Homo sapiens: one gene and its partners. The protein of the gene in region 3 interacts with the protein of the main gene of each other region in a biochemical or structural test. Each region holds a gene or a part of one and is shown on either strand. Other genes may lie near its edges. The genes, in order: ABCA2, ARHGEF26, SIPA1L2, RSBN1, TRIM29, FZD1 and LRP4.

Region 1 (3,500 bases), on a different chromosome or scaffold from region 3:
ACACTTCCTCCAGGGTCGTGTCCATCAGCCCGAAGCTGCTGAGGTGCAGTGCATCCAGGCTGCGCTCCAGGTGCTGCAGGGGCGGTGGAGGGGGAGGCTGCGGCAGGGACGCCCAGGCAGGAGTGCGCCCACCTCCACCACCTGCAACTGCCCCCCGACCCGTGCGCCCTCACACCTGGAAGAGGCGCTCGAAAGCCCCCTTCTTGGCGGCCTCGCTGGGCAGGATGTAGGAGAGCTCCGTGCTTGTGTCTGAGACCAGCAGGCAGGAGGCCACATGCTTGCGGATGAACTGGGACACCTGGAGCTCGGAGCAGCTGCTCAGCGGGGCCCGACCTGGGGGGCTGGATGCCAGCCCTGGCTCTGTGGGGGACGTGGGAGCAGGAAGGAATTCACTCAGGGGCTGGGAGGAGGGACCCCCAATGGGAACCCAACTGGGTCAAGATATGGGCATTGGAGAGGAAGAACCAGGCCCCAGCAGGTATCCTGGGCCCAGGGGGTGACGCTGAGGACCCAGCCTCTCCAAGATACGGGCGTTGCAGAGGGCGGGCCAGGCCCCAGCAGGCATCCTGGGCCCAGCGGGTGACGGTGAGGGCCCAGCCTCTCCATTGTGGATTCTCAGGTGGGGGTCCCGGGGAGAAGGTGGCCCGAAGCCAGCTCAGGCAGCTTCAACACAGACCTTGGGGGCCCCCCGGCTCGGCGGGCCGCTTGACCAGCGTGAGGCGGTACCCGTCGCCATAGGTGCCCTTGAGGAAGAGCGGGGAGCCGCAGCACTTGAGCTTCCCATGGGAGATGATGGCAATGCGGTCCCCAAGCAGGTCAGCCTCATCCATGTGGTGGGTGGACAGAAGGATGGTGCGGCCTAGGACAAGGCCAGACCCAGGGTCAGGGGGCAGGGGAGGCGCCGCCCGCACCCCTGCCCACACGGCACCCCACTCACCTGGCTTGTACTTCAGGATGAGGTCCCAGATGGCGCGGCGCGCGTAGGGGTCCACGCCCGCCGTGGGCTCGTCCAGGATGATGGCGCGAGAGCCGCCCACGAAGGCGATGGCCACGGACAGCTTGCGCTTCATGCCACCCGACAATGTCTGCACCAGTGAGTGCCGTTTGTTGGAGAGCTCCAGGTCCTCGATCATCCTGGGACAGGGAGGTGGGGCATGGGGCTGCTGCTATGCAGAGCCCCAGGGCCTCCGCCCACCTGCCCCGCCCCCCGCCCAGCCCACCCACTTGTCCATCTCTCTGCGGATCTCCTCCTGAGCCATGCTCTTGAGCCGTGAGTAGAACCAGAGGTGTTCCTCCACCGTGAGCCGGTCAAAGAGCACATTGTGCTGCGGGCACATGCCCAGGTTCTTGCGGATCTCATCCATCTCCGTGCGGATGTCGTGCCCGTAGATGGTGGCGGAACCCGACGTTGGAGGGAACAGGCCGGTCAGGATGGACCTGGGTAGGTGGGCGGGGTCATGACCCCACGCCCTCTGCAGGGGCCCCACCCTGCCCTGACTAGGACTCCTGCTCTGGTCAGCAGATGCCCACCGCCCTGCCCCTCCGACACTCACATGGTGGTGGTCTTGCCCGCCCCGTTGTGGCCCAAGAAGGAGACCACCTGGTTCTCGTAGAGGTTCAGGCTCAGCTTGTTCAGGGCCAGCTTCTTGTCGTCCTTGTAGACCTTGGTGAGTTTGTCCACGCAGACAACCAGAGGCAGGTGGGTGGGCTCCTCCTCCATGCCACGGGTCTCCTCTGCACCAGGGCTGTGGATCAGCAGGGTGGGGGCGGCGCCAAGGCCACCCAGGACTCTGAACCCAGCGCCCACCCCAGCCACCATTCTGATGCCAGCCTCACCAAAGCGCCGGCTCTCCATGGCACAGGCCTGGTCCTCCTCCATGACACTGAGGCGGGGGGTGCGTGCCCACGGCCAGCTCCACTCCCAGGCTTCTGTCCGCCCACTGCCCAGCCAGTAGGACTTCTGCAGTGGGAAGTACCAGGGCCGGGGCAGCCCGTACATGCCTGGGGGTCGGGGAGGGGAGGGGAGGCTGACCTAGGGCCTGGGGTGACCATCCACCACGTGGGCCACGTGCCCACCCAGGGAGCCACCCGTGCTGCATCCAGGAGTGGACACAGACTGCTGGTCCCCAACCCTGGCTGGGGACCCCTGCCTCTCCCCTGCCCTCCAAGGGCTGGCCAGTACCTGGGTGCACAGCCTCAATGTACCACGTGAGGATGCCATAGACCACGGCGTCCACCATCAGCATGGTGACAGCCAGGAGCAAGTTGAAGTCGTCCCCCTCCACCGGGGACTGGCTGAAGGTGTGCCACTGGATGCCCACGCCGGCCACCTCATACAGCGCGAAGTACTTAGAGCCCAGACCAAAGGCCGTCGTGGACATGAGGGACTGAGAAGGCAGTGGTGTCAGCACGTGGGGTGGCCCGGCACCCCAGCCGCCCGCCTGCCCGCGACCCTCACCGCGATGCACTTCTCGAAGGCCGTGATCTTATCATGCGCCACCTCCTCTCGGATCGCCACGTACATGTAGGGCACGTAGCTCAGGAAGTAGATGATGCCACCGCAGGCCGAGGCCAGCTTGGCCTTGGAGTACAGCACAGACACCAGGAAGCTGGGTGGGCAGGGGCCACGCGCACCGTCATCCACCCGCACGCCCGGCCTCCTGGGCAGGCCCGTGCCAGGGTCCAGGGGGCTCTGAGAGGATGTGGGGTGAGCTTGCTGGGCAAGTGCCTGCCCCAGGTCCCTCCTACCATGGCCCGCGCTCACCAGAACATGATGGTGGCCACCGCGTAGACTGCCAGGAAGAGCCAGATGATGACCACGTGGCTGTGCATAAGCACCTGGCCGTACTTCAGGATGGCGGTGAGTGCTGTCACGGAGATGGACAGCTGCACAAAGCCGGTGATGAACCAGGCCACCCAGTGCACCGCGTTGTTCAGGCCCATGGTCTTCATCACCTGCGGGTGGGCCAGGGGCTTGGGGCAGGCCCCGGGGAGGACGCCGCCCCTCCCTGCCAGCCCGCGCCTCCAGGGAGAGTCCCGGCCCGCGCACCTCCTTGAGCCGGTGCTCCTTCTCCGCCACGATGTGCTGGATGGTCATGGCCACGGAGTAGACCCAGGAGATCACCATGCACAGCGGCATCATGTGCTCAATGACAAACAGGAAGCTGCGGGGAGGCCGCGCTCAGGCGCCACTCAGCCCCAGCCCCAGCCCCAGCCCCGGGCGCCCAGCACTCACTCATCGCGTGTGTAGCAGGGGTAGGGGAACATCTGCACGTAGCTGCCTGGCTCCACCACATCGTGCCCCACAAAAGTGTCGATGATGGCGCGCTCCATCATGTCTGTGGGTGGGGGCAGCCATCAGGTGCCGGGCAGGCCCTCTCGTCCTCACACCTGTCCTCCCCCATGAATCCTCCAGCCGGTCTTCCGGGCCTGCTCCTCACCCTGGATCCAGACGAAGCCGTAGAGGAAGTAGAAGCGGCCGCCAGTATTGGGCCCAGGCC
Region 2 (3,500 bases), on a different chromosome or scaffold from region 3:
TTGATAGCCTCTCTTTTAAAAAGTCTGTGACATTATTAAAGAGGTGACGGAATGCTTGTTTTGCAAACCCCAACACATCTTTCACTGTGGACCATTGCTATTACTTCATTAACACAGTTGCTCAGATCTCAAGGTACTCACGGTCTGAAATATATTTTACAATTAGAAGGTATGCACAGGTCAAAAAGAGCAATCCAAGGGTTAGAAGTCCCCAGTGCCCCACACTGGCTCATTGCCGAGGTGACAGGGTGCAGGCTGTGTGAGCCAGGCACACTTACCCCTCAACTGGGCTTCTGTAGCTTTACAATTTGGATAACTAGTTAGCGGACAGTAGTTGGGACATGTCACATACAGATTTGAGTCCTCCAATAATGTACACTTTGCCAGGTTTTATCCCTTTGTTAAAGCAAATAGAACAGAGAGGGAATATAGCTGCCAGTAAAAATCATTTCCCCCCTCTTAATCTCCCATCCTTCATCTCCATGAAACCGACTATTAAGATAACCTTTCTCTCTCTGTGCACTAGTGGAAAAAGTAAAGTTCTATAGAAACTCACAGTTAAGAGGGACTCTGAATACAGCAAGTTAAGGCTTTTAGTGCAAATAGAATGAATTCCCACTAAGGTCAAAAGGTTTCAATTGGGTACCATGCTGACTTCTTGGTATCTTTTAAGGCCTAATTTTCCCTTCCTTGAGATTACTGTAGTGTGTTCCAGCTAATTTCTATTTGGAAACGAGTTGGAACAGCTGAAAACTAGGTATTATTGAAGGCAAAGCAGCCTCACGTCAGTTTTTTATCAGCTCATTTGGGAAGGTTTTTTTTTTTTTTTTTTTTTTTTTTTAATTAATTAGAAAGTAGGCTGGGCACGGTGGCTCATGCCTATAATCCCAGCACTTGGGGAGGCCGAGGATCTCCTCTCTGGTGGATCACTTGAGGGCAGGAGTTAAGAGACCATCCTGGCCAACATGATGAAACCCTGTCTCTACTAAAAATACAAAAAGTAGCTGGGCGTGGTGGCATACTCTTACAATCCCAGCTACTTGGGAGGCTGAGGCAGGAGAATCACTTGAACCTAGGAAGCAGAGGTTGCAGTGGGCCAAGATCACACCACTATACTCTAGCCTGGGCGACAGAGGTGGGGAAAAAAGTAGGACCCCTGTCCTATATTCAGGTTTTTCTCACATATATGAACCCATCTAAATTCTACGTTGTTAAAGGTAGCTTAGGTTAATTAGTCTATACTTATTTAAGAACAATATGGGGTGAGATGGATTTTTTTTTAAAAATCCTAAAGTAAGGCTTTCTACTTTCCTTCTAATGAGGAAAAAGGTGACAAAAATTCAAGTGTCAATGTCCCCTTCCTGGGAAGAGGTTTAGAAAAACAACAGCTCACCTTCTGAACTCTACCAGTTCCTTTTGAAGTTAACGAAGCATTAAAATCAGATGTAAAAAAAGAAAAAAAAAGGCAGGGAAATATTTACAAAACTGGACATTCTTTACAGATATACAATCTTGCTAATACTGGGAGAACCATACAAGGATGTATAAAGAGAGACAGTCACCTTAGTAATGCAAGGATAGAGAAAACCAGGATATAATATGTGTTTTTTATTGCCAGAACATGGTGAAACTAGGAGGAGCAGAGATGACCTGATCCCTGAAGTGAACTGCTCAGCTATTCTGTGTACCTCAGGAGGTCTGCAAGTGTGTGGTTAGGTAAAAACTGAGCTGTGCAAACTCACTGTATCCAAGCTCTTCTCATGAGAGAGCAGAACAACCTGGCAAGCTTAAAGGCAAGTGTTTTCGTTCTTTTAATTAAATAGGCTGTGACAAAATTAACAATAAAACTAGCCCAGAACCAACCAGCCCGGTAAGTGTCGTGCAAATCTTGCAGTAACAAAAGACCATCTGAGAGACTACACGTTGGTCTCCAGTCCTAGCAAGCGTCCCATTCTCTCCACATTCTTATCAATTGTAGCTTGACATGTTATCTCCTTGGCACATTCCATAGGAAACCAGCCTCTTTCTCCATCTCGTAGTCGTTCCCCCTCATACCAGCCTGTGAAAAAGAACAGAGTCCACACCAAACAACAAGTATTTGGAGTGTGCCAGGCTCCAAGGATATGAAAAAGCTGAGAGGCAGCATCCCTCCCCAGGCTAAGTGCTACGGTGAGAAGAGAAAGTGGGACAGGGAAAGCTTTCGAGGGGGAATGAATGACATGGCAGGGAAAGAACGTGAGCAGAGGCCCTGAAGTGAGAAGGCTGAGAGTATTTGAACCTGGGCTGAGCTGGGAAAGGAGATGCTTTGGGTAAAGGATAGCAGGAAGAATGCTATTTTTGAAAGGACGAATATTTAGAGATAAGAACTGGGTCACTGAGGGACTGGGGAAAAAAGAAAACGTCATGGTTTAGCCTTAGAGATGAGAAGACAGTACATATATGTGATCTCAAACATTAACATGTCAAGATTTGGAATATGGGCAATGATGACAAAATGACACTCCTCGGGTCTATAGCACTCTGCATCCTGGACCACGAGTGTCCCATAAGAACGCTCCCACTCACCATCGCTGACACGTTGATAGATGAGGACGACGTCAGCCACCTGCAGGGAGAGTTCATCTGGCTGCTTAGCAGTAAATGACCTAACGATTTCCACCTGGGTCAGTGCTGAGGCCAAAAGAGGACATACTAAGTTTCCAGTAGCAGAGAAAAAACATGTGCAATCCAATAATGTACACTTACTTATTTTTCTCTGCAATTCAGGGCCAGCATTGAGAGAAACAAGTTGGGCTTCTAATAAAAAGCAGAACATCTTTTCTAGCAACTCCCTTGCTTGGCTATAAGCTTTAGAATTTTAGAAGCTCAGATTTGAGAGGCCTTTTATGATGCATGATTCCCCTCAATAACAGGTTGATCAGGAGTCATTAGTCATGTCACACAATGGAACAGAAAACAGCCACTCTGCATTAGGGAAACTGAGACATGAAAGAGTTGCTGATGTGCCAAGGCCATGCAAAATCTGCAACAGACACAGTTCTCCTGGCTCTCATCAGAGTGTCTCCCCATCCCAACAGCAGCACATGAAAGTTTCCAAAAAAAAGTTTAGAAATAAAATGAGCTCCAACCAAAAGCTGAGAAGTCATGTTAGACCTCCTCAGAAATGCTGACATGTGGCCGGGCACGGTGGCTCACGCCTGTAATCCCAGCACTTTGGGAGGCCGAGGCAGGCGGATCACGAGGTCAGGAGATTGGGACCATCCTGGCTAACACGGTGAAACCCCGTCTCTACTAAAAATACAAAAAATTAGCTGGGCATGGTGGCGGGCGCCTGTAGTCTCAGCTACTTGGGAGGCTGAGGCAGGAGAATGGTATGAACCCAGGAGACGGAGCTTGCAGTGAGCTGAGATAGCACCAGAGCGAGACTCCATCTCAAAACAAACAAACAAAATGCTGACATGTGACTTCTTAATTTGCTTTTTAATACAAAGCTTGATTTC
Region 3 (2,834 bases):
CAGCACATCTCTGCTGCGACTCGGCTGCCCACCTCTCCACATCCCTGCAAACCTTTTATTGTGATCCATGAACTTGGATTCTGCCAAGAAGACCTTGTGCACGCTCAGTCTCTCCTGAAATTCCTTTCGTCTTCGTGCTCTAAGTGAATCCTGGCTCCCTCCCGAGGAGACCGTCCCCAGCAGCTCACTATGGGGGTCGGGCAGGCAGACAGTGCATCCTCTATTGTTCAGGCCAGATCTCCACTACTTCCTACAATTCCAGCTCCTCTAAAAAACGTGCCATTAGGTCATGAGACCTGCTACCCCTCCTGGCTGCAATTATCTACTGTATCCCCAGTTCCAACCATCATTACGGGAAGATTCTAGAACCTGGTTTGCTCTTTTCTCCCCATCCCACTCCTGTCATCTGTGTTGATGATTTCGAATCCACTGAGATATTCCATCTGACACTCTGGCCGTTCAGCCTCTCCATCGCTTTCTCTCAGTGATCTTCAAACCCCACCCTCCTCAACCCCCACTCCCATGACCACATCCTATACCATGCTATTGTCAATGACTGCACCTCTTCCTAAAAGTTTCAAGTTCCTACTTCTTGACCACCACCTCCAGTCTTTTAAAAATAATTTCTCCAGTATCCACTCCTCCAGTAATGATAGACTCCATCAATCTTATCAATCTTACTCTTATTTTCACTGTCCACCAACACCTCCAACCCAGCCATTCCCCAGCAGTGACATTATTTCTCTTCAACCAGCCTGGACTCCAGGTTCTTTGGTTTATTCATGCCCTGTACACGCCCCAGGGTCCTTGTCTCTCTCTCTCTCTCTCGTCTTGATTTCCCGTCTAAACTTTAATATTGGCTAAATTCAACTCTCCAACGGTTCTACACTTGCAGCTGGAGATAGGGTGACCAGCCATCCCAGCTTGCATGGGACTTTGCCGGTTCTAATATGGAAACTTCCACATCCTAGAAAACTTCTCCATCCCGGGCAAACTGGGACAGCTGGTCACCCAAGCTGGGGAAAAAACACACGACCAGGAAAACAGGTATCGCTTTAATTTATGCTCCAAATTCAAACGTGCTTTAGCTTTTTTTGGGCAAGTCTCCTAAACCCGGTTGGTTTACACGCTGTGGTGCACCCATATCCGCTATCCACAAAACTCTTATACTCCCACCACTCTTAGCTCATGACTAGAAAGAAAAGAAACAATCAGAGAAATTTGCCAACATCTCTGTCTGGACCCTGTGTATGTGAATGAACATGTGCATATATGAACACACACATGTGCACACATACTCTGCTCCACTCTGGTAACTATGTATGAGCTGTCCCTACTCCTATCCAAGGCCAGCTCCCTCCTTGTGACTAGATCAGAACTCCACCCACTTGCTCTTCACCCTCATCATAATTTCCCTCCCAACTGAATCCTTTCCTCAGCATTCTCACCAGCTACAATTTCTCCCTTCTTCATAAGCCAAACCAAACCAAACCATCACAACAAAAACCTTCCTGTGATGCCCTCCCGCTTGCTACCGCACCCCATTCCGTTTCCCTGGACAGCCAACTGGCTCTCCAGCACAGGGCTGATGGAACAGAGCTCAGCCAAGTATTTGTGGGATACAGAATTTAATTTCTTTTGAGGACAGACCATGTGCAGGTTGATGTGTACAGCAGAAGTTCTAAGGGCTGTGAAGCTGATTCAAGACAGAGGACAGGACTCATAGAGACCAGGCTTTCTGGCAGCAATGGACTCCTCTGAGGTCATCTCATACAGAGTTGGCGCAACTGATAACTCACTGAACTAAAAAATGCTGGCCCACCATGCTTCTACTACACACTGAAGATTTGCCACACCAAGGGCTCATCCTCATTTACTCATATCCATTGAGATCCCTGCATCCCACAAAATGAAATACATCAGCTGCAGGTCAGCAGATGGAGTGAGACCTCAGGAGCATCTGTTGGTATTTATCATTGGTTTTTGTGTAAGGCAGTTTTCTTTCCTGAGTCTTTTCAATTTATCTGTAGTAGTTATAAGGGGCTGATTTTATAAGAGAAACAGTTCTGATTATGCTCTTCCAATTGATTACCTTCCGAAGGTCGGTCTGGAGTTGTCGAAGAATTAATTCCAGCTGATTGACTTTCCCGGTCAGTGGTGATGGAGAACGCTCCCTAGCAAATAAGGATAGAATTAGAAAGATTCAAGAGAGTCAATCGAGCATTTTTGTTGGTCAAGTTTTCACTCGAAAAAATTATTTCATGTGCTTAGAGCCCAGCAAGCAGATATATTATATTATGTCAGAATGGGAAAGTGTCCATATTGCTGATCTAGTGGAAAGCCCATTCTGGGACTTTACTGATTTAAAAAGAGATGCAGAAACTCTATAGATATACGAGTTGGTAGGAAAACAAAAGATATATTATTTAAGTTGGTTTATCCAATGGAGACAAGGAAGACCCAAATGAAGTCCTGGGAACCAGTCAATTTCCCCAATTTGCCTTTCCCTATGATAACAATATTATGAAGCTCGTTACCAATGTGAACATGCAAGTTAATGAAGTTAATTCCAAGTTCTATATTCAGCTCACATAGAAGTTGGAATTAAGAATGGATGACAGAGGTAAAGAATACACATTTCACGGGGAATGAACATGTCATGAATATAGGGGAAAGAGTGGGGTGTTCCCAACATATTTCAGTGGAGGGCATGAGGCTGGATCAAGGACCAGGTTCTGGGAGGGGCCATGCCCTGGGCTGGTGAGCATGTGCAGCCTGGCAGGTGGAAGGCCAATCGGCGAGTTATCCCTGCATGGTGCTGTTGCAGTAATTCA
Region 4 (3,500 bases), about 120 Mb from region 3:
ATCCTGGCTAACACGTTGAAACCCCATCTCTACTAAAAATAAAAAAAAAAATTAGCCGGGCATCATAGCGGGAGGCTGTAGTCCCAGCTACTTGGGAGGCTGAAGCAGGAGAATGGTGTGAACCCGGGAGGAGGGGCTTGCAGTGAGCCGAGATCGCACCACCGCACTCCAGCCTGGGTGACAGAGCAAGACTCTGTCTCAAAAACAACAACAACAACAACAAAAAACAACTAGCCAGGCATGGTGGCAGGCACCTGTAGTCCCAGATACTTGGTGGGGCTGAGGTGGGAGGATCACTTGAGCCTGGGAGATGGGCTACAGTGAGCCCTGATCATGCCACTGCACTCCAGCCTAGGTGACAGAGTAAGACCCTGTCTCAAAGAAAAAACAAAAACAAAAACCAAGAATTGGTTAAATAAATCTTGATACAACCATACAGTAAAAATTCCCAAGTTTTAAAGTAAACATCACACAAAGAATGGATTTTGTAAAAAGATTATTTATGGCTATATATAATTTGAAAGGTTAATATGCCTAAATGGTGGCTACCTTTTTTTTTTTTTTGGAGATGAAGTCTTGCTCTTGTCCCCCAGGCTTGAGTGGAGTGGCACAATCTCGGCTCACTGCAACCTTCGCCTCCCAGGTTCAAGCAATTCTCCTGCCTCAGCCTCCCGAGTAGCTGGGATAACAGGCGGCTGCCACCATGCCCAGCTAATTTTTGTATTTTTAGTAGAGATGGGGTTTCACCATGTTGACCAGGATGGTCTCGAACTCCTGACCTCAGGTGATCCGCCTGCCTTGGCCTCCCAAAGTGCTGGGATTACAGGTGTGAGCCACCATGCCCAGCCTGCCTTCTTTCTACTCTTCTTTTTTTTTTTCTTTTTGAGATGAGTCTTACTCTGTCGTCCAGGCTGGAGTGCAGAAGCACCATCTCAGCTCACTGCGACCTCGGCCTCCTGAGTTCAAGCGATTCTCATGCCTCAACCACCTCAGTAACTAGGATTACAGGAGCGTGCCACCACACTAATTTTTGTATTTTTACTAGAGACAGGGTTTTGTCATGTTGCCCAGGCTGGTCTTGAACTCCTGGACTCAAGCAATCTGCCTGCCTCAGCCTCCCAAAGTTCTGGGATTACAGGTGTGAGCCACTGCACCTGCCCTCTTTTTACTCTTTCCTATTACTTTTTTCTTAAGTTTATAAAAATCAGGAAACAAATGATGGTCATTTTTTGAGGAAAGATTACAGAACAAAAAATGTATATAGTATTTAACAATTTAATAAGATTTCAAGATTCGTCATCATCCTGCAACAAAAACTGCTATAATCTAGCAATGTGCAGAACTTTCAAATGACTCCTGGGTTTTTACCATGCCACCACCCTGCATCGTACATAATGTTTTCAAAGTATTTTCATACATTTCAAGTACCTAAGATTATTCCATACTTAGCTCAAGTATCATTCTCCTATGAGCCTTAAGTTAAGGTTTAGATTAGTCCATTAAAACTCACTTCTGGGCACTTATTTTGAATTGCTATTTTCGTAGTCTAAGCAGGTATAGATCATTTTCAGTCTCATTAAATTAGATTTTTCAAAGTACTAGAGAGTGAGTTAATCTACATTTGTCTTCAAAGTCTGAAACACAAAACATGTTAGCACAATATGAATTACTGAGGCTCGGTCCTATAGAACATTATTGGTTTCATGTAGCAAATACTGGTTACCTAGTATATGTCATGAGGACAAAGATGAATAAAATAGTCCCTGTCTTCCCAAAGCACACCTCAAATGTTAGTAGAAAATAAAAACATGTAAACAAAACTTTAATGAACAGAACATTGTAGGGAACAATTAATTACCTAAGGAAGGAAAGAAAAACTTCACAAAGGAGGTGACGTCCAAGTTAAGTTTTGTTTGGTTTTGGTTTGGGTTTGAGTCAGGATCTTGTCGTGGAGTCCTGGGCTCAACTGATCCTCCTACTTCAGCCTACCAGGTAGCTAGGACTAAAGGCATATGCCACTGTGCCCAGCTCAAGCTAAGTTTTGAAAATGTATTAAGTTTGCTGTGGGACGGTAACCCCAGCACTTTGGGAGGCTGAGGCAGGAGGATCATTTGAGGCCAGGAGTTCAAAGCCAACCTGGGCAATATGGTGAGACCCCATCTCTACAAAAATAAAATACACAAAACAATTTTTTTAATCAGATGGGCATGGTGGTACACACCTATAGCCACAGTTACTTGGGAGGCTCTCCTGAGACCAGAAGTTCAAGAATACAGTGAGCTATGATTGTACCACTGCACTCTAGCTCTGGGCAACAGAGTGAGACCCTATCTCAAAAAAAAAAAAAAAAAAAAAATAGTGCAAAAGCAAAGAGTTATGATAGACTATGGTTTGGAAAGTGAATTCGGTATGGCCGGAGAAGACTAAACACAGATACATCTAGAAGAGGTACAGTTGACCTGATTATTAATGTAAACCACACTAAGGGGTTTGATCTTTTATCCTGCAGGCAGTTAGGGCACAGGTTTTTAAAAAATAAGTAAAAATTAAATTTGTGTTTTAGAAAAATGCCTCACTGTGATAACTGTGATGATTGGACTGAAAAGAGGAACCGACAACTAAAACATTTACTTAAGGGAGCCCAAGACAAATGGTTTTCAAACTGTGCTCATTTTTATAAGCAACCAACTAAAAAAAAGTAGTTTTGCTTATTTGAGAAAAAGAAATATTTACCGTCGTCTTTTGAAGGGTGACTTTGGCATATCTGCTGTAGGGATCATCTGTTCTCCTGGCCTTACCCACATTATAGGCCCATCATCACTCTGGGACCTACACTGGAGTCGGAGGCTAGAAAGTGTACCCCAGGGCAAAGTCATCTAGAAATCAGACGGATTAGTCACATTAAAAAATTGTTTCAATGATTTATAAGTTAATCCTCCCACCCAAATAAAAGTTCTAAGAAGGCTTTTTTACAACTGTATATAAAGAAATAAATGCTATTTACATAGTAATTTATATTAAAAAGAATAATTGAATTTAAGTACTTTGTACTAATATTATTCTATCTAAACATTTCTGTGCAAAACACTGGATAAATTTAATTTCAATAGGCAATATTAGCTAAATACTCTTCAACATATAAAGTGCCCACTTAAGTAAAGATCAAAACTTTAATAATCTTAATTAACACTCACTTTCAGAAATGGTGATTCTTCTAACATATCAAGGAACTCTGGGAAATAATCACCAACTTCTTCATCTACTGCTCCAACGAGACTTATCTGCCGCATAGGACCTGCTCGGTAGGTGCCACAGCAGTATGTCCTGTTGACCTAAGATAAAACAAAAGAGGGAAAAATGGACTGAGGTACAACTATAATATAATTAAAGAATTAAAATAGGTTATTGTTTCCAACGTTGCCATTTCTTCTACAAACTAAGAACTGAATGGTCAATACCTTGAATAAAGTCAGAGAGGCACCCAAGCACACTGACAAATA
Region 5 (3,500 bases), on a different chromosome or scaffold from region 3:
CCGATACCCAGCTGAAAACAATGAGCTCCCCATGTGTATTCTAGCCCTCTGTTACCTCTGTCCTTCCCCACCTGACCCTCAGATGACACCACACCCCCATTTCCGGCCCTGCCAGTCCTTCCTGTAAGCCTTTGTGCCTGTGTTCCCTGATGCCCTCTGCCCTTCGCAGTCATGCTCCCTCTACTGAGCACAGGTTCCTGGAAATTCACCCCTCCAGGGAAGGAGTCACAGCCACTGTCAATCCCACTGACCTCAAAGCTCCCAGACTCAGGACCCAGTCCCTTTAGGGGCCTTGTTTCTTTCATCTCCTTGGTGATTGCTTCCTGTTCTCCCCCCAACTCCACCCTGAGCCTGGGAGCTCCCAGAGGGCAGATTTCCTGTCCCTCCTGTCCTCGGCACAGGCTACCCACAGTGCTTGGGCAGGGATGCCGGGGGAACCTGTTTCTTCCATCACAGACATCATAGACTGACTCACAGTGCAGAGCTGGGAAGTCTCCCAGCATGTGAGCACAACCTCCCCTCTCTTCAGATACAGGTACTGAGGCCTGCCCAAGATGCCCCAGGCCCTAGGCCCTCGGGGTGGCATCATAGTGGGTGCTGCTGTTCCCTCCACCCCCTCCCACAACCTGCAGGAGGCTCACACTGGGCCCTCAGTCTCCTACAGAGCAGGAGAGACCCGCAGGAGCCTGTCAGGGCACTCGATGGCACCCCAGGGCCTGGTCCATGGATGGAAGGGAGAGACAGGAGGGACAGGGCCAGGGCGAGGCCAGGTAGGGGTTCTGAGGAGAGGGGTGCTGGGGCCGGCACTCCCAGAACTTGCCCAAAGGCACAGCACCCCAGGCAGGGAGGAGGCAGGCTGGCCGGCTGGGGCCTGGCCCACACCAGGAATGTCAGAGGAGGGAAAGCCCAACAACCAAGAAGCCCAGGGGTTGTTTTCAAACTGGGTGGGGCGGCACAGGTGCTTTTCTGTTGAGCTCATCTCTCCAAATCCCCCAAGCCTCTCCCATTGTGTGTGTGAGTGTGTGTGTGTGTGTGTGTGTGTGTGTGTGTGAAAGACGTGTGTGAATTACTGATTAGCTCCCGGAGGCTTCCCCCTCCCCAGCCCCTGTGCCTTACCCAGGCCTCCCTCCTCCCCCAGCCTCCCTCTCCCACATGCACAGGCACACACCCTCATGGTCCGAGGGCTGGCACACCCACCCTTATGTAACGGGTATTGCTGTGGTTTGTTGCTGGCGCCCAAGAATGTGAGAGGCCACCACAGGGCAAGGACAGGCAGGCACTGGTCTGTGCTAGGCCGGCACCTTGCAGGCTGGGACTGTCCAGGGCCTGAGAGGGAGGGCCAAGGGGGCCAGGGTGCAGAGCCAGGAAACTCAGAAGAGGAGGGACCACTCTCCCTGCCTAGGGGAGCAGAATGGTCCTGGGGTCGGCAGCCATCTCACAGGGCTCAGCCCCTACAAAACCTGAGCCAAAGCAAAACACAGCACCGGCCTGGCAGAAGGGAGCCCAGGAGACCTCCGGAAGGAAAGAGAAGCAGAGGTGTGGGCTGGAAGTGAGAAGGCAAGGAGGGCAAAGAGGTGCTGCCTGTGTGGCCCGGGAGGAATGCCTCTGAGGAGCTGGCACCAGGTAACTTCTCATTCGAACCAGGACACTTCTGAGAGCTAACACAGACCTGTTCATCATCACATCAGGACAACACGTAGATGCCAGGACTTTCCCAGGCAAACTGGACATGCCATCACCCCCACTCAGAAGGAACCTGGCTGAGAGTCACTGCACGGACTTTGGGGGCCCCTGGGCAGCAGGAGAGACACTAGGTCTGGGGTGAGGGGCTCCCTCTTACCTTTGGGTGTCAGGTACATGGAGTATCTCTTCATGGTGTCCGGTGCACTCCACTCACCCCCGAAGCTGTTCGTGTAGTTGTTCACATAGCGATGGTCACCACCTAGGAAGCAGAGGGTCGGGTCAGCAGAGGAGCCAGGTGGGAAGGAGGAGCCAGCCACTGGGGACTTTTGGGGCTCAGATGAGTCACCCCATAGCCCTTCCCCTATCTCCCAGGCAGATCCAAGTTTCCCCAACCTCTCAGAGAATATGACGCCCTGCCCAGCATTCACTCGGTTCCTGAGCTCTTGGTGGAGAAGGTGTCTGCAAAGAGCCATCCACCCTCTTGAACTAAGCCCTTGTAAATACGATTGTGTGCACAACACTTCCTAGCACTTCACCTTTACAAGGTGCTATTAATGCCCATTTCTTATTTGATCCATACATCAATTGTGGTTGTATCCCCCTGAGACAGATAAGGAAATTGAGACTCAGGAAGTAAGAGAAGCAGCTTGCCCAATGTCACATGCCGATAAGGGCAGAGTTGGGGATTGAGCTCTGGCTCGCTACTTCCGGGTTCAGTCCCAGCCACTGCTGGCAGCCTAAGGTGAGGGGATGAGGTCCCAGTGTTGGCCTCCATGGCCCAGGGATCCAGGCAGTGGAGTGAGCTGCTATGGCAGGGGCCACTCAACTGCAGACCCCCTAACTCAAACAGATCTGCTGCTCGACACTTGACTTCCCTCAGCCACCTCCACCCCATTCCTTTCTCTTTCGACTTCCCCGTCTTCTACTTTCCCTGTCCTTCCCTCTCTCTCTCCTGAGCAAGAGGAGAAATGTGCCTGAGACCCTCATTCTTCATCTTCATCACCTGCGCCTATCAGTGTCCTGGTGCACAGCAGATACTCAAAGAATAAACAAATGCCCTCCTAGGTGTTAGCCCAGCCCTGTGCCCCACAGAGTCCAGGATGAAGTGGCCTGGTGTCTCTTAGCGCAGGGGCCTTTGAGGGTGTGGACGAGTCCCTGGTCTGGTGGGCAGGCTAGCATCGGGGAGGAGTGGATGGTCACTCCACTGTCTGACTCACCGGCCACCACCTCCTAGAGCAGACACACTCCCAGCAGCCACACGAAAAAACAACACAGAGGCAGAGGAGCCGCCCCCACGGCCCCAGGCACAGGTGTGGGCTACTGAATCAGCAGTGCCCATCCCTGCTCCTGCTTGCCACCTCGCCACACACCTCGTACAGGACGCAGGGCCACACCTGTACAGAGGCCGTGGCCAGCATTGTGACCTAGAAATGGGACAGTGAGCGGCCAGGAGCCTGAACAGTTTCTGCAAGGCTCACCCCACCCCAGTCTAGGCCATCCCCCAGGCCTGGCCGGACCTCACCGGAGGGGCTGCCCTGCCGAGTTTGTACCCCAGGGACGATGATTATCACACTCCTCAACCCCACTTCTGCAGCCACCGCCAGCCGCAGCTTCTCAGATGAGAGGGCATGGGAGACTGAACAGCAGAGTGTTCAACCCCGCCGTACCCCCTACCGAGCAGTGCGCCCTTTGAAAGGATGCTTCTCTGAGCCTCAGCCTTCTCGCCTGTAAAATGCAGTACACCCCACAGGGAAAATAAGGTAATGTGCGTGAGAAGCTCAGTGAAATGCCCGGCATCGAGCGAGCACTCAATCATT
Region 6 (3,985 bases), on a different chromosome or scaffold from region 3:
TGCAATACTCCGAAAAGGGCAAGAAGGAAAAGCCTCAAATGGTTAAACCGCCCTAAATAATTAAAAACTTTTGAAAAAGAAAAACGCGTGATCGGTCGTCATTTAAATACAAATATACTTACAAAAATCTTACACAGGCTATTTACAATCATAAAAGCGAACAGTCCTGGTACCAGAGTGTGAGGGCAAGAGGTCTGTCCATCCTCCCTCTGGCAGTCGGGCCCTCGTGTCCTTTTGCCTCAGGGACGGAAGCTTTTGCAGGAGCTGAGTTGTTCAAAGGAGCCTGCGAAAGAGAGTTGTCTAGTGAGGAAACCTCGAGATGTCAGGATTGGCACGAACTCCACGGCGCTGGCTTTGGGGGATCGCTGCGCCCCGGCCGAGGCCTGGGCATGGGCTGAGCCCCGGGTCTCAGACTGTAGTCTCCCCTTGTTTGCTGTTGGTGAGCCTCGTGTAGAACTTCCTCCAGGAGTTGAGGGTCTTGCCGGACCAGATCCAGAAGCCCGACGTGATGCCCACGATCAGCGTCATAAGGTACTTAATCATGAAGACCGTGAAGTCCGGGCTCATGGGCGGGTGCGGCGGGGCGCCTCCGCCCGCCTGGAGGTGAGGGCAGGGGATAGCGTAGCTCTTGCAGCTCTGGGCCACCCAGCTGCGTTCCCACTGGTCCCGGAAGGCCTGCTCGTAGAAGTAGCAGGCGATGACGATGGTGGCTGGCACAGTGTACAGCACGCTGAAGACGCCAATGCGCACCATGAGCTTCTCCAGCTTCTCGGTCTTGGTGCCATCGTGCTTCATGATGGTGCGGATGCGGAAGAGCGACACAAAGCCGGCCAGCAGAAAGGACGTGCCGATAAACAGGTACACGAAGAGGGGCGCCAGCACGAAGCCACGCAGCGCGTCCACGTTGTTAAGCCCCACGAAGCACACTCCGCTCAGCACATCGCCGTCCACCTGGCCCAGCGCCAGGATGGTGATGGTCTTGATGGCCGGCACAGCCCAGGCGGCCAGGTGAAAATACTGTGAGTTGGCTTCGATGGCCTCGTGGCCCCACTTCATGCCAGCCGCCAGGAACCAGGTGAGCGACAGGATCACCCACCAGATGGAGCTGGCCATGCTGAAGAAGTAGAGCATCATGAAGAGGATGGTGCAGCCCTCCTTCTTGGTGCCCTGCGCCACAGTGCGTGCCCCGTCCTCGGCGAACTTGTCATTACACACCACTCGGTCTTCCAGGAGGAAGCCGGCGATGTAGGCCACGGCCACGGCCGTGTAACAGCCGGACAAGAAGATGATGGGCCGCTCCGGGTAGCTGAAGCGCCGCATGTCCACCAGGTACGTAAGCACCGTGAAGAGCGTGGAGGCGCAGCACAGCACTGACCAAATGCCAATCCAGGTGCGCGAGAAGCGCAGCTCCTCGGGCCCGAAGTACATGAGCCCATACACCTTGGTCGGCTCACAAGGTGCGCCGCAGTCCTTCTCCCCCAGGAAGTGGTAGTTGAGGTAGGAGGGCACCTTGAGGGCGCGCGGGCAGGAGAACTTGCCTCGCTCCGACGCGCCGGCGCCCCCCGGGAAGCCGCCACGGTGCCCTCCGCCGCCGTGCTGAGGGTTGCTGGTCCAGAACTCTGGAAGCAGCGAGGGCGTCGGGGTGCCCTTGTCGGACGTGTTCTGGCCCACGCACAGCTCGCCGGCGCCGTGCACCGGGAACTTCTCACACTTGAGCGTGTCTGGCCACTGGAAGCCGAACTTGTTCATGAGCGCCTCGCAGCCCTGGCGCGCGCGCTCGCACAGGGAGCGGCAGGGCGGCAGCGCCTGCTCTAGCACGGTGCACACGGGCGCGTACATGGAGCACAGGAAGAACTTGAGCTCAGCGGAACACTGCACTTTCACTAGAGGGTAGAACTGGTGCACCTCCAGGCCCGCGTCCTCCTGGTTCGTGTGGCCCAGCAGGTTGGGCATGATGGTCTGGTTGTACGCGATGTCCGTGCACAGCGGGATGGAGATGGGCTGGCAATAGCCGTGGTCCGGGACGGAGATGCCCCGCTCGCCGTTGTACTGCTGCCCGCTCTGTTGCTGCTGAGGCGGCGGCGGCGGTTGCTGCCCCGGCCCGGGCCCCTGGCCTGGCCCCTGGCCCGCCGCCTGGGCCCGGACCCCCAGCAGCAGCGGAGCCTCCAGCAGCCAAAGCAGCAGCAGCAGCTGGCGCGCCAATCGCCGGGGGTCAACTGGCGGGCGGCGGCGGCCACCGGCGTCCCCGCTGCCCTCCTCCGCCAGCCGGGCCGAGAGCGCCCCGGCACAAAGTTCCCAGCTCGCGCCACCGCCGGCGGCCCGGGACTTCTTAGGCGCCTCCTCCTCAGCCATACTTTCTCGGCTCCTCTCTTGGCGCCGCTCCGCTGGGGCTGCCAGGGGCACGGCCGGCGGCGGCTCCCCCTGCGGCCAGGGAGACCTCTGCGCGGGTGCCCTCCGTCGAGCCCAAGCCGCTTTCGGCCCGCTCCCCCGGCTCCTGTTCTGCGTACCGCAGCCGCCGCCGCCGCGGAAACTTGCGATTCATGAAGCGCGGGCGGCGGGGAGAACCCGGGTGGCTAGGGCGCGCCGGGGTCGTGTCCCGCCTTCCTGGCCCTCGGCTCGCTGGCTCCCGGCTGGCGGCGCCGCGCTAGTGGCCGCGGCCCCGTAGAGAGCGCAACTCTCCGCAGCCCAGCGGGCTCGGCTCCCCCCTGCGCCTCCGCCTCCTTCTCCGCCGCCGCCGCCTGACCATTTGTGTCAATCCCTCAACTCGCTCCCTCTCCTCTGCCTCGCGCGCCCTCGGACCGGTTTCCAGGCGCCCCGTAGTCTGTCTTTCACCAGGAGGGAGGAGCCTTGAAACCGACGCAGAACTGGAGGCTCAGGGACCGTCGCCCAATCGCGGCTCCGGCTTCCCGGCGCAAAGGGAGCCGGCCGCCTCCTCGCCAGAGCGAAAGCCAGCGGCAGGAGGGCGGGGTAGGAGGAGGCGGGAGGAGGAGGAAGTAGTGGTGGTGGCACTACTCAGGCACAAAGAGTAGGATTGCTCTGAAGCGGGACAGGCTTGGTTGCTTTTGCTTTTTCAGAAGAAAAAGGCGAGGATACGTAGGAGAATGGTCCCATATGCTGCTGGAGATAATGAATAGGAGTCAGAGGACCGCGGGACTTCGCTTTTCTTTTATTTTATCCATTATCATGTTTAAAAATCCTGCTCTTAACGCTGGTTACCAACAGCAAACCGGGTTCTGCTTCCAGAACAGATGCCTTTGACTTAAGGAGCGCACGGTTTCCTTTGAGTTTGTGTCTGTCGAGGTTTTGTTTAACATATTACATTAATAAATCCTCCAGTTCGCAGGCTGGGCTTGGCGGGCTTTGGTCGCGCCATTTCCCCAGAGGAGACGTTCACGGGATCGCTGTCAAATGAAACAAAACACAAACTTTGATGGAATTTGGAAAGTAAAGCCAGATGCGCCTTCTGCTACTATCATTCTTCTTGGAGTCAAACTCCTTTTTTTCCGCCTCTTTAATCAAGTCAGAAACAGAAGCAAAAGAAAACTATCCATTAAATTTTTGGAGAGAAAAACTTAAGAACCCGACGACCGAGGCAGTGGGGGCGCCTCTCTGGGATCGTCCTCGCCGCTCCAGACCGCAGAGGTGGCGCCGGCGGGAGCTGCACTCGCCGGCAGCTTGGGCCCCTGGGGAGCCTTTCTAAACCCTGGGGACGCCCACGGCTCCGATGGGAACTCCTGGGACCTGGGCCATTTAGGTTCCACAGGCTGGGCTGCAGAGCTGGAGACGCCAGTTTAATAAACAAAACAAACAAACAGTCTGAAAGCAAACAGCGAACTGCACATTCTCTTCCTAATTCCAAAACAGCATAATCCGTCTCAACAGACGCACATTAATGTTGTTTTCCTTGTAAGATTATTTTAAATGATGGTTTGACTATGTAATTCAGTTTTATAAGAAAAGTGCCATTGGACTATTAATTCTTCCA
Region 7 (3,500 bases), on a different chromosome or scaffold from region 3:
TGGTATTACTGTTGTGAGAATCTCCAAAACCCCAAGGTCAAAAGGGGGAATTTACAACTTCTGGGTCCCTCTCTTTTATGTGTTCTCCAATAGCAAATATGCAGTGAGTTTATGGGTCTCAAACAGTGACCTCTTTCTGGTTACTGCTAAGGTAAAGAAAGATTCATTTCCCTCGCCGGAAGGTAAAGTAATGAAGTGGGGAAAGTCTGGCGTCCCAGCACTTTTGAATCAGCACTCGAGTGTTGTTGGTCCAGGGAACAGGGCTTCCCATAACAAATAATTATACTTTGCAATTTCTCTTTAGTTTGTGAGCTACTTTTGCATATGCACTTGCATTCTCATTGAATCATTACAATAATCCTGAGCAATGACTGCAGGGCCCATCCAACAGGTAAGGGCACCCGCTTTGGCCAAGGTCACAAGGTAAGTAGGAGAGCCAGGATGGCAGCCCCATTCTGACACTTAAACTAGTATTCTTCTCTTAGTGTGATCTCAGAGTCTGGACTTTCAGTAAGCTTTCCGGGTGACACCGATGCACACTCAAGTGTCTAGCGGCACTGCTCTCCACCATTCCATAGAATGCACAGCTGAAGGTGGACCACATCTGTCACATGGAGGCACATGGGTAGACCGTGACTACTCACAGCTACAGACCAGCTTTTTCAAGCTGAACCAGAGATGAGAAGGCTTAAGGAGTACCCTGTGAGTGTTCTGGAGTCTGGTGGCTACCCCAGTGTGGAAGCTATTAGGATTACAATGAGAAAAGGAGGAATCGGCCGGGCGCGGTGGCTCACGCCTGTAATCCCAGCACTTTGGGAGGCCGAGGCGGGTGGATCATGAGGTCAGGAGATCGAGACCATCCTGGCTAACAAGGTGAAACCCCGTCTCTACTAAAAATACAAAAAGTAGCCGGGCGCGGTAGCGGGCGCCTGTAGTCCCAGCTACTCGGGAGGCTGAGGCAGGAGAATGGCGTGAACCCGGGAAGCGGAGCTTGCAGTGAGCCGAGATTGCGCCACTGCAGTCCGCAGTCCGGCCTGGGCGACAGAGCGAGACTCCGTCTCAAAAAAAAAAAAAAAAAAAAAAAAAAAAAGGAGGAATCACCATTCGTTTATAATATGCTAAAGCATATTAGCATATGCCTCTCTCCTTTTATCCACTGGCAGCAATAAATACAAGTTCGTTGAATGAATGAATGAATGAATGAAACACTCCTCTAGAATCTTGTGAAAGCTGGAGTCAAAGGAAAAGAGACTCAGAATATCATAAATAAAAGTAGTTATTTCCTACCTAACCAGTGCTGGAGAGAACAGGAATCTTCTCGTTTGCAAGGCAGCCTCTTTGTCCTACCCAGGTTTTGTTTACTCCTTTCTCCTACAAGAGTTCCTTTCACCAGCTGTATTATCCGGCTGTGAAACTGACACGCCATGTTTCTACTTATTTCTGTCCCATGGTCCCTTTTATTCCCGATTCCTAGAGGCCAGCTTAACTTGGTTGGTTTGGAAAATCTACCAGGTGAAGTCTTCTCCTCAGTGGCCCGTTTCGAAAGGGACATGTCGGGCACATGATTGCGGGTCCAAGCAAGTTCAGCCCTCTCTTGCTACTGTTACATACAGAAAAGAAGTCCTTAATGGTTAGCCTCCAAAGTTATGAGGCAGAAGAACATAATGTTAAGCACGGAGGAACAAAACTCCCCAGGATAAAAATCCTGACTCTGCTAAGTTCCTAGCTGTCTGACCCTGGGCAGCTATTTAACCTCTTTATATATAATTTTCTCATCAGGAAAATTGGGATAATAAAATCCCCTAACTTACAGGAATGTTATGAGAAATAAATTAGTTAATTCATAAGAAGGACTTAGCATTACTGCCTGGCACATACTAAGTGCTCAATAAATAATAGCTCTTGTTATTACTATTAAAGATTTGGCTTACCCCAGAACTGTCACATCCAACCACTCCATGATTAAGACCTGCTATTTTAGGACTTGAGATGTTTGAAAACCCTACTGTGTACCAGGCAGCAGTACCACCACCATGGGTTAAGTTGGTGGCATGAATAACTGCAGAGTCTTGCTTTATTGCCTTTCTCTGAAAGAGCTTGAGGCACATGGTATCCTTTATCCTTGCCCCCTTTTTTTTTTTGAGGTGGAGTCTTGTTCTGTCACCCACACTGCAGTGCACTGGCACAATCTCAGCTTACTGCAACTTCCATCTCCCGGGTTCAAGCGATTCTCCTGCCTCAGCCTCCCAGGTAGCTGAGACTACAGGTGTGTACCGCCACACCCGGCTAATTTTTGTATTTTTAGAGTAGAGACAGGGTTTCTCCACATTGACCAGGCTGGTCTCAAACTCCTGGCCTCAAGTGATCCACCTGTCTCGGCCTCCCAAAGCACTGGGATTACAGGCACGAGCCACCACACCCAGCAAATCTTTGCCTAATTTATCACCAACTAATTCTGAGGAGCCAAGGACAGGAGAGAGAATCCAGAAACTAAAGTACAGAGCAATTAAGAAATGGATTAGCTTCCACTTTTGTAAATCAGGAGTAATAACAGTATCTATTTCATAGGGTTGCTGGGAGGTCTAAATGAAATAATACGTATGAGGTTCATACTAGACAGCTGTTATTGTTTTTCTTGTTATTTGTACTAATCCCATTATCTTCATCTGGATATGTCCTCTCTCTCAACCTAGTAATGTAGCCAATGCCAGGCTATCTTTGTATAGATCCTCAAAATTCTACCTGCCCTACCTGGAAGCTGTCAACAGATTTCACAAATCCAACAGGGCTCAAACATGGCTGTGCTCTGTGAAGGGCTGCTCAAAATATTGCTTTCCCTTCCCCCTACATCTCAAATCAGAAGGTCCACACAGTAACAAACCACATTTGTTTATGGCTGTTCAGGGAGCAACAAACCACATTTTTCTGGAAACCTTTTAAAGTCTCTCTCTTCTCCTGAGCCCATGAGTTCGAGGCTACAGTGAGCTATGATCATGCCACTGCACTCCAGCCTTGGCAATAGAGTGAGAACCTGTCTCAAAAAAAAAAAATAAATAAATAAATAAAAATAAAGTCTCTCTCCCTCAAGAAGCACCTGAGAAGTAATTCCTTATGCATTCAGACTCCCTGAGAAGATGTCTGAAAACAGAGGAGAGGTCAATCCAAGATGAAATATAGACCTTCCCAACCTAGATCTTCTGGGATAGCCTGGAATCCTGGCTCAGTTACTCACTATTTGTATGACAGGAAACTGCTCTGAGCCTGTTTCCCATCTGTAAGATGGGAATCTTCTTTTTTTTTTTTTTTTTTTGAGACGGAGTCTCGCTCTGTCGCTCAGCCTGGAGTGCAGTGGCACAGTCTTGGCTCGCTGCAACCTCTGCCTCCCAGGTTCAAGCGATTCTCCCACCTCAGCCTCAGCCTCAGCCTCCTGAGTAGCTGAGACTATAGGCATGTGCCACCACGTCAGCTAATTTTTGTATTTTTAGTAGACATGGGGTTTC

The links.
Region 1: the proteins of SIPA1L2 (region 3) and ABCA2 interact in a test that uses a peptide from one of them, tested with the Homo sapiens proteins (one large-scale study listed by IntAct).
Region 2: the proteins of SIPA1L2 (region 3) and ARHGEF26 interact in a test that uses a peptide from one of them, tested with the Homo sapiens proteins (one large-scale study listed by IntAct).
Region 4: the proteins of SIPA1L2 (region 3) and RSBN1 interact in a test that uses a peptide from one of them, tested with the Homo sapiens proteins (one large-scale study listed by IntAct).
Region 5: the proteins of SIPA1L2 (region 3) and TRIM29 interact in a test that uses a peptide from one of them, tested with the Homo sapiens proteins (one large-scale study listed by IntAct).
Region 6: the proteins of SIPA1L2 (region 3) and FZD1 interact in a test that uses a peptide from one of them, tested with the Homo sapiens proteins (one large-scale study listed by IntAct).
Region 7: the proteins of SIPA1L2 (region 3) and LRP4 interact in a test that uses a peptide from one of them, tested with the Homo sapiens proteins (one large-scale study listed by IntAct).

Annotation. Positions count from the first base shown.
Region 1 is NC_000009.12:137,014,738-137,018,237, forward strand, and holds part of ABCA2 (ATP-binding cassette sub-family A member 2), read right to left. Parts: coding exon 3,441-3,500; intron 3,339-3,440; coding exon 3,236-3,338; intron 3,165-3,235; coding exon 3,050-3,164; intron 2,956-3,049; coding exon 2,765-2,955; intron 2,610-2,764; coding exon 2,459-2,609; intron 2,388-2,458; coding exon 2,183-2,387; intron 2,002-2,182; coding exon 1,837-2,001; intron 1,735-1,836; coding exon 1,554-1,734; intron 1,438-1,553; coding exon 1,225-1,437; intron 1,135-1,224; coding exon 938-1,134; intron 860-937; coding exon 677-859; intron 361-676; coding exon 176-360; intron 74-175; coding exon 1-73. UniProt on the Homo sapiens protein: Probable lipid transporter that modulates cholesterol sequestration in the late endosome/lysosome by regulating the intracellular sphingolipid metabolism, in turn participates in cholesterol homeostasis.
Region 2 is NC_000003.12:154,253,890-154,257,389, reverse strand, and holds part of ARHGEF26 (rho guanine nucleotide exchange factor 26), read right to left. Parts: exon of another isoform or gene 3,417-3,500; intron 2,671-3,416; coding exon 2,566-2,670; intron 2,060-2,565; coding exon 1,917-2,059; 3' UTR 1-1,916. UniProt on the Homo sapiens protein: Activates RhoG GTPase by promoting the exchange of GDP by GTP. Required for the formation of membrane ruffles during macropinocytosis. Required for the formation of cup-like structures during trans-endothelial migration of leukocytes.
Region 3 is NC_000001.11:232,400,300-232,403,133, forward strand, and holds part of SIPA1L2 (signal-induced proliferation-associated 1-like protein 2), read right to left. Parts: intron 2,175-2,834; coding exon 2,093-2,174; intron 1-2,092.
Region 4 is NC_000001.11:113,774,477-113,777,976, forward strand, and holds part of RSBN1 (lysine-specific demethylase 9), read right to left. Parts: exon of another isoform or gene 3,344-3,500; intron 3,333-3,343; coding exon 3,195-3,332; intron 2,877-3,194; coding exon 2,734-2,876; intron 1-2,733. UniProt on the Homo sapiens protein: Histone demethylase that specifically demethylates dimethylated 'Lys-20' of histone H4 (H4K20me2), thereby modulating chromosome architecture.
Region 5 is NC_000011.10:120,121,114-120,124,613, forward strand, and holds part of TRIM29 (tripartite motif-containing protein 29), read right to left. Parts: intron 1,943-3,500; coding exon 1,841-1,942; intron 1-1,840.
Region 6 is NC_000007.14:91,263,248-91,267,232, reverse strand, and holds the start of FZD1 (frizzled-1), read right to left. Parts: upstream 2,801-3,985; 5' UTR 2,353-2,800; coding exon 409-2,352; 3' UTR 1-408. UniProt on the Homo sapiens protein: Receptor for Wnt proteins. Activated by WNT3A, WNT3, WNT1 and to a lesser extent WNT2, but apparently not by WNT4, WNT5A, WNT5B, WNT6, WNT7A or WNT7B. Contradictory results showing activation by WNT7B have been described for mouse.
Region 7 is NC_000011.10:46,908,551-46,912,050, forward strand, and holds part of LRP4 (low-density lipoprotein receptor-related protein 4 precursor), read right to left. Parts: intron 1-3,500. UniProt on the Homo sapiens protein: Mediates SOST-dependent inhibition of bone formation. Functions as a specific facilitator of SOST-mediated inhibition of Wnt signaling.